Homo sapiens: one gene and its partner. The protein of the gene in region 2 purifies or fractionates together with the protein of the main gene of each other region. This does not show direct contact. Each region holds a gene or a part of one and is shown on either strand. Other genes may lie near its edges.

Region 1 (3,500 bases), about 100 Mb from region 2:
TGTCCGCTTGCGGGACCTGGGGCCCGGCAAATCCGTCCGCGCCATTGTGGATGTGCACTTTGACCCCAGTGAGACCTGCACCCTGGACCCTTCCTGGGAGGCAATGGGTGGGGGATGCCTGGGGCTCTGCCATGCTCAGAGCTCCCTCCTCCCCAGCCACAGCCTTCAGGGCACCCGACGTGGCCCGGGCCCTGCTCCGGCAGATCCAGGTGTCCAGGCGCCGGTCCTTGGGGGTGAGGCGGCCGCTGCAGGAGCACGTGCGATTTATGGACTTTGGTGAGCGCCAGGCCACGAGCCACAGCTTACCTGCCCCCTCCTCTGCCCATGCCCCTGCCCCTCACCCCTTCCTGGCCCTGCTCCCAGGAAACCCTAACAGCTCCCTGTGCCGGCAGACTGGTTTCCTGCGTTTATCACGGGGGCCACGTCAGGAGCCATTGCTGCGGGAGCCACGGCCAGAGCCACCACTGCATCGCGCCTGCCGTCCTCTGCTGTGACCCCTCGGGCCCCGCACCCCAGTCACACAAGCCAGCCCGTTGCCAAGACCACGGCAGCCCCCACCACACGTCGGCCCCCCACCACTGCCCCCAGCCGTGTGCCCGGACGTCGGCCCCCGGCCCCCCAGCAGCCTCCAAAGCCCTGTGACTCACAGCCCTGCTTCCACGGGGGGACCTGCCAGGACTGGGCATTGGGCGGGGGCTTCACCTGCAGCTGCCCGGCAGGCAGGGGAGGCGCCGTCTGTGAGAAGGGTAAGGATGTCCACTGCAGAGGAGGGCGGGGAGGCAGCAGGGTGGGGGCAAGGATTGGGGGTGGGGCTAAGCCACCATCAGGCTTTGAGTTGGGGGCAGGAGCCCGGATTAAGGCGGGGTTTCGGCCAGATGCGGTGGCTCACGCCTGTAATCCCAGCACTTTGGGAGGCCGAGGCAGGCGGATCACCTGAGGTCGGGAGTTCGAGACCAGCCTGACCAACATGGAGACACTCTGTCTCTACTAAAAATACAAAATTAGCCGGGCGTGGTGGTGGGCGCCTGTAATCCCACCTCGTGAGGCTGAGGCAGGAGAATCGCTTGAACCTGGCAGGCGGAGGTTGCGGTGAGCCAGGATCGCGCCACTGCACTCCAGCCGGGGCAAAAAGAGCAAAACTCCGTCTCAAAAAAAAAAAAAAAAAAAAAAGCAGGGGGCGGTTTCAGGGATAAAAGTGGGGAATCCTCGGAGCTTTTCCAGCCGGCCCTCCCGGTCGCCCTTTGCAGTGCTTGGCGCCCCTGTGCCGGCCTTCGAGGGCCGCTCCTTCCTGGCCTTCCCCACTCTCCGCGCCTACCACACGCTGCGCCTGGCACTGGAATTCCGGGCGCTGGAGCCTCAGGGGCTGCTGCTGTACAATGGCAACGCCCGGGGCAAGGACTTCCTGGCATTGGCGCTGCTAGATGGCCGCGTGCAGCTCAGGTGGGCGGGGAGGGGACGGGGCCGGGGCAGCTCAGGTGGGCGGGGAGGGGACGGGCGGGGGAGGGGGGGCCGGGGCAGCTCAGGTGGGTGGGGTGGGGACGGGGGCGGGGCAGCTCAGGTAGGCGGGGTGGGGACGGGGCCGGGCGATGGTCCTGAGCACCTGCTCCTGCCCTCAGGTTTGACACAGGTTCGGGGCCGGCGGTGCTGACCAGTGCCGTGCCGGTAGAGCCGGGCCAGTGGCACCGCCTGGAGCTGTCCCGGCACTGGCGCCGGGGCACCCTCTCGGTGGATGGTGAGACCCCTGTTCTGGGCGAGAGTCCCAGTGGCACCGACGGCCTCAACCTGGACACAGACCTCTTTGTGGGCGGCGTACCCGAGGACCAGGCTGCCGTGTGAGTCCCTTGGAGGGTGGTGTGGCCCCGACCCCGGCCCTTTGGGGTCCCGGTGTACGAGGTGGCTTTGCCTGTGGCCCCTGAGCCCTGACCCGGTGTCCCTCCTGGTGGCAGGGCGCTGGAGCGGACCTTCGTGGGCGCCGGCCTGAGGGGGTGCATCCGTTTGCTGGACGTCAACAACCAGCGCCTGGAGCTTGGCATTGGGCCGGGGGCTGCCACCCGAGGCTCTGGCGTGGGCGAGTGCGGGGACCACCCCTGCCTGCCCAACCCCTGCCATGGCGGGGCCCCATGCCAGAACCTGGAGGCTGGAAGGTTCCATTGCCAGTGCCCGCCCGGCCGCGTCGGTGAGGGTGGGGCCGGGGCGGGTGGGAGTGGGACCCCGGGGCCTGTGGGCGGTACCCAACCGACGCCTCCTGGGACCTCGGTCCCGGTCCCGTCTTCCTCCATCCAGGACCAACCTGTGCCGATGAGAAGAGCCCCTGCCAGCCCAACCCCTGCCATGGGGCGGCGCCCTGCCGTGTGCTGCCCGAGGGTGGTGCTCAGTGCGAGTGCCCCCTGGGGCGTGAGGGCACCTTCTGCCAGACAGGTCGGGGGCGTGGGGCTCTCGGGGCAGGGGGGGGGGGGGGGTTGAACGTTTGGGCGGGTACAGGTTCCAGGTAGCATTGCAGTTAGGATGCGGCTCAGTCTAGTCTGGGTTTTGAGTTAGGATCCACACACGGCTGGCATGGGGTGCAGGAGGCCCCGGGGGTCAGGACTGAGGCCTTGGTGACTCTCCCTACAGCCTCGGGGCAGGACGGCTCTGGGCCCTTCCTGGCTGACTTCAACGGCTTCTCCCACCTGGAGCTGAGAGGCCTGCACACCTTTGCACGGGACCTGGGGTCGGTGGGGCAGGAGCAGGGGGAAGGGCCGGCCCCCACCTCCGTCTCTCCTGTGGGGAGGGGACAGCAAAGACACCCCGACTCCCCATGACCCCAGGGAGAAGATGGCGCTGGAGGTCGTGTTCCTGGCACGAGGCCCCAGCGGCCTCCTGCTCTACAACGGGCAGAAGACGGACGGCAAGGGGGACTTCGTGTCGCTGGCACTGCGGGACCGCCGCCTGGAGTTCCGCTACGACCTGGGCAAGGGGGCAGCGGTCATCAGGTGGGCCGGCAAGGGTGGCTCTGGGAGGCCTGGGGCACTGGCCCGGGGCCGGGGCACCAGCAGGTCGCTCAGGCCCTGGGTGGTCGCGTGGCCGGTGGTGGACAGAGCCCACTCACGCTGCCCCTCCTCACCAGGAGCAGGGAGCCAGTCACCCTGGGAGCCTGGACCAGGGTCTCACTGGAGCGAAACGGCCGCAAGGGTGCCCTGCGTGTGGGCGACGGCCCCCGTGTGTTGGGGGAGTCCCCGGTGAGTGCTCTGGGCCGCGAGGGGACTCCCGCTGCTGCCTGCTCTTCCTCCTCGGGCGGCAGCCCCGCCCCTGCCGGCGCTCACGGAGCTGTTTTTCTGTCCTGTTCTCTTGGCCGCCTGCCCTGTCCTCTGCCTCCTCTGCCTCCCTGCTCTCTGCTCTCGCTCTGCAACCCCACCCGCTCTTCGGAGGCCAGAAATCCCGCAAGGTACTGTCGGCCTCTCATCCGCTCACCGTCTCTGGCGCCTCAACCCCTAGGGTAGCTCCTCCCCCACTAAGGACCC
Region 2 (3,500 bases):
ATATTCCACTTACATCAATCAACCTATAACCAAATCTAAAGTCTATTGCGGACCATATATTAAGGACTCCTAATAATAAAAAAGGCTTATCACGTTCCTTCACTCTTGCTGTTTCCTCTTCTCAGCTTTGTGAAAAATGAATATTGTATAAAGTTATCAGCATAGCTTCTCAAAACCAGCCCATCATTTTGGTCAAAGCTCCAATTTAAACTTGTCACCTTACAAGTTTACATCATAATTATATCCAAAAAGGCATATTTTACAAGTTTCTTAGGAAAAAATGTAAAACACGAAGAGTGGCTTCATAATATCAAAGCCCAACTGCATCAAGAAAAGAACTTTTAAACTAATCATGGAGAAGAGATCACATAGGGGAAAGATATATTTAAACAAAGAATCTACCAACAGATAAAACTGTTTTTTATGGCCAGTGTGCAAAGTATGGACTTCTTATGTCTTCACAAACTATGATAATGAGAAAGTAGTTTACATTCTTTTGAAGATTCAAAAATAATATTAAGGAGGGAAGGTCAGAAAAGGGATTTTCTCAAGTTACTCAATCAAGGCAGAGGGTCATGGAGAAAAGACCGCATTTAGGAATATAATTTCTCTACTGTTTCCCTTGGATTGCTCTCTGTCCCTCTGCTTATATTGATCTTCTTGCTCTTCTCAGTAGAGACTTCTAAAGAGTTTTTCAAAAGACCTTGACCCTCAATTAGCTATTGTAATATTTCTGCTGATGTTACTCATCCAGTAGCAAATCCACCTCAGTAGCTCATGAGTTAATTTTTTTTCTTTTCTATACTCAACATGCAAATAATATGAAGGGTAAAAAAAAATACAAAAGGAAATATGTAATATCTAGAATAGACCCCACTCACGAACAACTATTATTTTAAAAATGTTTAAAAATACTTACACACCATACCATAATGAGGTTTAATTTATCTCTGTTACTTTCTATAAGAGGTTGCAGATTATTTGGGGGAATCTAAAATACAGAAATAGCATAAGACCATCTCTATCTACAGTGCCAGGTAATTTCAATGGCAACATTCAAAAATGTTGCTGAAATAATAAAAAATTGATTTTTCCAAGAACATTGATTCTTTTTTGCTTTAAAAACAAGGTGTTGTAAAGCATGTATCACAGAGCTATGCCTTCTGTTATTTTCATACCAAGCCTTCAGAAGTATAAAAATAAGTTTAGAGAGAAGATTGCAGATGCTGTTGTATTCATGGTTTTGCCTCTCCCTGGAAAGCTTTTTTCCCTCTTCTCCATATGTCAAAATTTTACCTATATTTTAGGATGCAACTCAAGTACAACTTTTTCCACAAATTCTTCCCTGACATTCCTTGCACCCCAAGAGTGGATAATCCTGATAAACTAAGAACCCCTAGAATAAAATAATGATGTTTTATTTATATTTGTATCTTTAGCTACAGGTACTGTGTCTGATGCAGAATAGTTGTTCATGAACAAAAGTTGAATTGGATTTCCTCCCTACCCCAAATTTGCAAAACAATTCCTAATCACTCTTTTCTTTTTGAAATAGTATTTAGTGTACACATGCTTTTCTTACTTTATTAGTAGTTATTTTATTGTATCTCTCTTACTAAATTGTAATGTATTCATTTATTGTATTTTATCCCTTCTAATAAATTATAAGGGCAGGTTCAGTGCTTTGGGCACTATCCTATTCTTTCCTATCTAGCAGCTAGCACAGTGTCTTATTGATATAAGATATTTAATAAGTATTTTTTGCATGAAAAAATGAATATATGAAGAATACATAAGTCAAGGAACACCTAATAAACTTGAAATCCTGGGTTAAATGATTCATGAATATAATCTATGTTTTTGATCCATTTTTCCATCAGACAAGATACTGAGGCAGTGAAGTAAGACTGAGTTTAAGAACCTTTAAAGACTTAGAACTCTTATGCCAGGTTACTTATCTTGACTTACGCCAAAAATCAGCTTTCCTTAAATTTCTTGTTAATTTCCTGCACACCCCACTATCCTCAGTGCTATTTTTGACTTGTAGTAGCTCTCTAGGTTGCTGCAACTTCAATACTCCTGTGAATTATCTGTGTTTCATGATGCTTGGTGGCAAAGTTAGTATATCCTCTTAGTGTCCATTTCATTTGCATGGACTTATAAGTCCAAACATTTCATTAATGTGTACATGTTGTTTTGACTACTTTTATTGTATGTAATGTCTTAGCTTTATTTGATAAATTCATATATTACCTATATTTTTCCAACTCTTTTTAAAAGCTGACCTTTTTTTAAGTATCTAAAGGTTCTGTTTAAATTATTATCTTAGTATATACACTTATAATGGTACTGTGCCATATAAAGAAAAGCCATATTGCCTCCATTTTTCTACTACATTATTCCAAGAACATAGCACCACCATCAAGAATAATTTTTAATAATTAAAAACAAATATAAGTATAGTGGAGTCAGATTCATTGGATTTTAACTTCTAAATAGTATCAGAAATTAAATATTTTGTATGATTAACTTTGTAGGTTAAAATGCTCTGGAAAAAATGTCAGTAATAAAGTTGCTTAAATATTACAAATAAACAGACATCTATATAACCCCAAAGGGAGGACATAAATTGAATAGACAAGCCTATTAATTTTTCCAACTAAGTTGAAGATGATTAAGAAGAATTGCCCCTTGATGATTTAAATAATATTACTAGAGGGACCAATTCCAGATGGCAAGATTTCTTCAAATAGAGAATCAGTACTGGAAATGTTGATTAACTAGCACCAAAATGTCACTGGTAAAATATGACTTACAAAAGATGCCATCTCTTCTGGGAGTGATCTACATTTACGGCTGCATCGGGAATTATTTATCTGGAATCAGGACCAACAGTCATTATTTTTACATGTACGTAAGTTTTGTGTCATAATGAAATCTTCATACATATCACTGTAGTAAAAACAAACTGAAATATTATTTGGCTCAAGACTCTCTAAAGACCTCTTATTATACTTATTATTTATAGATGCTACAGATATATTCTACTCTTTATAAGTTGGGTACTAGAAACAGAGAATAAAATGACTTTCATTTGATTGATCTTAAAGTACTCAAGGACTATGCAGAAGGAAATGTAAAAAGAGTAATGCGAAGCTTACGCTGAAGAGATAGCTATTGTAATATAATGACCCCAAACTGAGCAGAAGACATTTGAGGGTAATGAATCAAGTGAATGGAATTAATTCATTGTTTATTCATTGCAACCCTCATTGATGCCAAAGCTTCATGACCTCTTTGTCGGTCAAATCAAGGTAAGACTCCATATCTAAATATTTGTTCTAAAACAAAAATAAAATAAGACTTTGATAAAATTACAAATGAGTTTATATGTAGCATGGAGGTGAGCACATTCAAATACAGTTAAAAGAAAAACAGTGAGGAAAGCTATTTGTTTACGTATCAGGGATGGTTTAAGTTGTTACAGATGATGATTCATT

Evidence for each region.
Region 1: the proteins of OLFM3 (region 2) and AGRN purify together in Homo sapiens (affinity purification with mass spectrometry; one large-scale study listed by BioGRID and IntAct). This does not show direct contact.

Annotation. Positions count from the first base shown.
Region 1 is NC_000001.11:1,047,620-1,051,119, forward strand, and holds part of AGRN (agrin isoform 2 precursor), read left to right. Parts: coding exon 1-68; intron 69-156; coding exon 157-276; intron 277-392; coding exon 393-746; intron 747-1,247; coding exon 1,248-1,440; intron 1,441-1,616; coding exon 1,617-1,832; intron 1,833-1,946; coding exon 1,947-2,176; intron 2,177-2,283; coding exon 2,284-2,418; intron 2,419-2,613; coding exon 2,614-2,710; intron 2,711-2,807; coding exon 2,808-2,972; intron 2,973-3,106; coding exon 3,107-3,218; intron 3,219-3,412; coding exon of another isoform or gene 3,413-3,424; intron 3,425-3,500. UniProt on the Homo sapiens protein: Isoform 1, isoform 4 and isoform 5: neuron-specific (z+) isoforms that contain C-terminal insertions of 8-19 AA are potent activators of AChR clustering.
Region 2 is NC_000001.11:101,986,927-101,990,426, reverse strand, and holds part of OLFM3 (noelin-3 isoform 2 precursor), read left to right. Parts: intron 1-3,500.